Linked DNA regions of Homo sapiens: region 2 is linked to region 1. A link means that fine-mapping ties the variant in region 1 to the expression of a gene that starts in the linked region. Tissue or cell type: whole blood. Region 1 holds a variant in brackets; the other region holds the start of a gene. All regions are shown on one strand. Distances are from middle to middle.

Region 1 (2,769 bases):
TAAGGGTAGCACTTATACAAGTACTTTTCGCATAGTTATGAGCTCAAATGTTAGCTATCATTAAAAAGACCTGAAAAATACAAGAGCTATAGAGAAATATATAAGGAAGTTCCTTTTGTTGCTTAGTGATATACCCTTCTATGCAGTTCCCCTAATGCATTAGGCATGATTGGTTTATAAAAGTTATTCTTGTAAAATTTGGAATTATTGCTAATAGTCTTGTCCTTTAAACATGCCCTTCCATTTCCATACCTTCTATAAAGGAATCATCAAGAATTTTGTCTCCATATAACCAGTATCTGAAATATTTAAAAGATGAAAATTAATTTTTTAGGCTAGATATTAATTTTGTCCTTGAAGAAGAAATGCAGTACTTCCTATTACTTACCGTAAACCTCTTGTGGCTAAAATGAATTCCCCTTTTTGCAGCTGTATTCGAGGCTCTTCGGTGCAGGGACTTGTGAAGAAGGTTTTGATTCCTTTATTCAGAGGGCAGCAGGCACCACTATAATCTTCTATTACTTTATAGCGAACCTGTCGTCAGTGATCAGAAGAAACCTTTAAATATTCACCCATGATATCTGAGTTTTAAGTCTGAATTTCAAATTTTAAAGCAAGATCCAAAATATCCAGTGACAAGCCTTCTAGTTCCCCTTCTAGGGGAACCTCCCAGTTCCCCATCCACCTAGTTCCCTGGGAGGCAACTAATGTTTCTAGTTCTCAAGGCTTTTCTTACTCCTCTTTTCAAGCCCATAGCTAAGAATTAGAGTTAGAGCAGGGCTAAGAACATTCTGCCATGATGGAAATGTTCTGTATGTGTAGTATCCAATGCAGCAGCACTTGACACATGTAGCTACTGAGTGAGCACTTACAATGTAGTGAATGCAAACAAGAAACTGAATTTTTAAATTGATTTAATTTTAACAAATTTAAATAAAACAGCCACATGTGGCTGGTGGCCATCATATCCAACAACATAGTTGTAAGGATAGGTTTCACATTAAGGAGCTGTATTGAGGATAATTATTTTCCTATGTTGGCAATATAAATGGACTAAATTCCTCCCAACCTCTAGTCCCAATTATTTAAATAAAAACAAAAGTTAACTGCATCAAATTTCAACAAATGTATTAAGGAATACTATTTAATAAAGGCCAACAATTGGTTTCTAGTCAGTCAATTAAAAAAACTGTATGGAAGTACAGAGCCTAACAAAAGAAAAAAAAATTACCACTGCAAAAGAAGTACTTACACTTCTGACTCTCTTATCTGCTTTTTGTTTCAACTGTTCTATCTGTTTGGAAGAAATAAAAAGAAAAAAATGAAGTCTCTTGTCTCAATGTTGAAAAATCGCCTTTCCTCATCAACTGTCAGAGTGATATGGC[A/T]AAACCCCAATTTTCCAGCATTTCAAGTTGCTGATAATTTAAAGGCCACAGGTTGTTTTAGCATGGAAAAAAAGGCCCTATGCTAAGAACCAGAGGCTGAGAGTGAGGTTTTCTTCTCGCTATTCACTCTCTAATGTCCTCATCTGTGTATATTCCTAGAGTGCTTACTGTGGCCCAGGGATCAGGGAGTATATTCTCCGCCCTCATGAAGCTTCTCAGGTGAAAACACTGAGATTCACTGATTCTGTAGAGACATGGCAGACAAACTACAAATGAATAATGAAGAACATTTAATAATGAAGTTGAATGAATAAAAGTCATCATAACTTAATTTGACATAGCTACTATTAAATAGCACTATATTAGATATAATAGGAGAAATAAAGATAACTCATGATCTCTGTCCTAGAATCTTATGAAGTTACAGATATAAGATAGCAGAATTAAATAAAAATATGAGACTTCATGAGCTACCATAGAGTAGTATGTGATTAAATGTCACATTCAGATGAGTCTATGGGGGTAGGTTAGACTTTATGGAAGAGGTAAGACTGGAACGAGTCTTAATAATTTTAGATAGAGTGGAGGTCATATAAGATGGAAAAAATTGTGGGCAAAGTTGGGTGACAGGAATGTATAAGGAATTCATATGCTACTGTAAGTTGGAAGGTAATTTTTGGCCAGATTTCATAAAACTATGTTAAGGGATCAGGACTTTATCTCACAGGTATAGAGAATTAAGGAGATATTGAAATAAAGGGAGATACATGATACAAGGAGTGCTTTAGAATTATTAGATTCATTTTGACATAGTGAAAACATTCATATTACTTATTTTACTACAAAATGTCACTTGAGTTGAGGGGGAGTTAAGGGAAAGAAGGCGAGGCAAAAAGGAAGGGCTATTTGAACAAAAATACTCACTGTTAAGCTGTATTGGTGACAGCCTTCTCTTACTGGCCACTCAAGTCCATCTCCTTCAGGGACCCCTGACCACGTAAATACCTGTTTAAAGTTCCTCCATCTACTTCCCATATCATATGGAAAAACAAAGACTTCATCTAGTTGATAATACTGAATTCGATCTTTAGCCTGTGGGTAACAAAGATATAAGATGGCAGGTGCCTCTGTCTAAGTGGCCTGCAGTAATATGTTATTGAGAACACTTATTTCTCAAGTTTCTAACATTCATAAAAATACTTCCTCCTTGCTGTAATATTAGTGTACATGGAAGCAATAGACAACTTCATCACAATATAGGAAGAACTTGATATAGAACACCAGCCTTGTATGTGATTACCTAGGAAATATCTGACAGGGTTTCTTTAGGAATAAGCACTCATAAAGGCTTATTAAAAGTTAGCTAACTTTATCTCATACATAA
Region 2 (2,769 bases), 59 kb before region 1:
CCAGCCTGGCCAACATGGTGAAACCCTGTCTCTGCTAAAAATACAAAAAAAAAAAAAAAAATTAGCCAGGCATTGTGGTGCATGCCTGTAATCCCAGCCACTCCAGAGGCTGAGGCAGGAGAATTGCTTGAACTCAGGAAGTGGAGGTTGCGGTGAGACTCCGTCTCAAAAAAAAAAAAAAAAAAAAAAAAGGAGAGAGTAGGATGGCTGAGCCATGACGCAGTAGCAATGCTTCTTTTTTTTTTTTTTTTTTTGAGACAGAGTCTCGCTGTGTCGCCCAGGCTGGAGTGCAGTGGCGCGATCTTGGCTCACTGCAAGCTCCACCTCCCGGGTTCACACCATTCTCCTGCCTCAGCCTCCCAAGTAGCTGGGACTACAGGGGCCCACCACCACGCCCGGCTAATTTTTTGTGTATTCAGTAGAGACGGGGTTTCACCGTGTTAGCCAGGAAGCAATGCTTCCTATTCTAGCGCCTTGCTAAACTATGTGTGCTGCAGACTGTGTTCGTGATTCCGAATCCTAAAAACAACCGTCCTAGGCTTGTCTCTCAGCCTAGACTCTAGACTGATTTGGCTCATTTGGTTGTCTTGGAGACGTTCTAATTCTGAAGGGGGCAGTGGTCCCTTCTAGAAGATAGCTGGTCTGCAAATGCACACCTCTGCTTAGTCTGAATCCTAAAGTTATAGCTTGAGCCAATTAAAGTGGCTTCTCATTTTTCTCTCACTCTGATCTCAAGGAGCCCTTTTTCTTCTAGTAATCTAGACCTTCCTCTTCCTATCACAGTCTCAAGGATTGTGCCCCCAAAGCAGATGCAAAGCCCTGTCTACCCCTTCTCCTTCCCCTGAGGTAGAGCTTTATCGAAGGTTTCTCTTGGTAAACGTTAGCTTTCTGAACTAAGGGCCGTCTTTTTTTTTTTTCCCGCTTAAGCCCATTGCATAACAATCTCTTGTTTTAATCTTTTGCCCAACACTGCTTTTCTTACTGTCAGAGGTTACTACAAGTGTTTGAACAGGTAACTTCTACCTTTGAACTTCTGTTGTGACAGATTCAAAGGTTCCAGGGGAGTGTGTTGGCCACTCTCAGGACAGTACACAGTAGCTTCGGGTGTGTCCCAGTCAGTCCTAGGAGCTGTGGAAAGAGTAGAAGTGCCTGAATGTGGTGCTGAATCAATACAGCCAGCTGTGAGGGGAGCACTTCCTGGACCCAGGAAGGGAGAGTCTTCTTCCAAGGTAAGCTGCAATGATACTACCTGCACTATATTGAATATATCTGTGAGATAGTAGGGAGGGGATTGGTGTGGGGAAAGAAAGTGGGATTTGTTATGCTCAACCTAAGGCTCTTTAATAACATGAAATTACATTTAGTTGAATAGTAATCTCAGCTGACTTGTGTGGGAGGCAAAGAAAAAAATCAGTTGGAAAAGGGGTGGAGATATATGAGCTATCCAAATGCTAGCAGGGGATGGAATTGGAAGGGAACACTGATTTTGGTAAGTGTACTAAAGCACACCAAGCCAGAATGTGGGTCTCCTTCATCTTCCATTAAGAAATTTCTGTCTCAGTGTAGTTAGAAGGATCGTGCGTCAGCTGCTGAGGGCAGAGAGTCCCATTTGGCAGACAGAGAGGAAGGGAATCAGCAGATATTCGATTAGGTGCTGGGGACTGTTCTGGGTAGATTATGTATGTTACTTCATTGGTGTATCTCATCCTATAAAGCAGGTGGTATCCTTCCCATTTCACAGAGGCATAGTGCGTCTCCAGGCTGTTAAACAGCATGGCCTAAGCTACATAGCTCCAAGGTGGTGTGGCTAGAATTTGAGACTTGATTGGTCAGTTTCCACAGCCTGCCCAATAATGCAGAATTGTTGTGGGTTGCCAAAGCTTTCAGTTACCCCCTGAAATCCTGAGGGTGTCACTCATGTGCACAGAGGATTGATAGGAATACAACTCTGATGGGCCTTTAGAATGACTCAACCTTCCTGAACTTGAGCATTTTTACTGGAGGAGGTCAATAAAAAAAAAAGAAATAAAACCTCATCTTCCCCTGGCCCTGAGCCCTTTGGTGAAGGAAGACAGCACCCGGTGAAGGGCTCAGAGGTATTAGTGTGGCTGAGATTCGACACCCACTCTGCCATCCTCTGCTCTCCTCTAGAGGAAGTTGCCTCTTGGGGAGCTGAGTTCCTGAAACTAAGCAAATGACAAGTGCTCCTCCAGCCGTGAGATGAGCCAGAGGATGGAATGCCACAGGCCCCACTTCGTCTCCCAGCCCTTCATCTTTCTTCCATGTCCAAAGGCGGCTCCCCAGAGGCCAAGGGCTCAGCTCTTGTGTTCTCTGAGACTGTGGCACAGCTCACCCTGGCTTCCTTAGTAGGAAGCTTTTAAGAACTGCTCTGTAGAAAGAACAAACCCTAATCTAGCTCCAGCAAAGAGCCAGGATCATGCTGAACTTCCTGTGAGCCTTCGTGGGGGATCGAGGCTGGAGAAAGTGCTGCTTCATTCTGAGGTATCTGTGAGGTGGGGAAGGGGCAGGAAAATTTGTCATTTCGGCTTCCTAATCTGAGAATGGTAGCTCCAGGGCCCCCCTGTAGCCACAGCCTTAGGCGGATCAAAAATGAGACTAATACAGGTCCTGGTAATACTGGGGGTGACCAAGGCGAAAGAATCGATTTTTAAGTTAAGTTTTGAGGTGTGACTGTATCAGAGGGAAAGAAACCATGCCAATTGAACGACTCACAGCCCTGTCGTTCCTGACTTGCTTATTTTCTTGGCT

Evidence for each region. PIP is the estimated chance that this variant, and not a neighbour inherited with it, causes the effect.
Region 2: it holds the start of ACSL5, and the variant in region 1 is fine-mapped to the expression of ACSL5 in whole blood (TOPMed, PIP above 0.99).

The regions. Positions count from the first base shown.
Region 1 is chr10:112,431,988-112,434,756 of GRCh38, forward strand. It overlaps ZDHHC6 (zDHHC palmitoyltransferase 6), which reads right to left. Exons shown (of 11, transcript NM_022494.3): 7 at 2,310-2,477; 8 at 1,253-1,294; 9 at 389-534; 10 at 253-299. Among named protein-coding and RNA genes, the nearest start is that of ZDHHC6, 14 kb to the right of the region's middle. The variant A/T (reference allele first, on the strand shown) is at 1,386.
Region 2 is chr10:112,373,041-112,375,809 of GRCh38, forward strand. ACSL5 (acyl-CoA synthetase long chain family member 5) reads left to right here and starts at 1,076. Exons shown (of 21, transcript NM_203379.2): 1 at 1,076-1,229.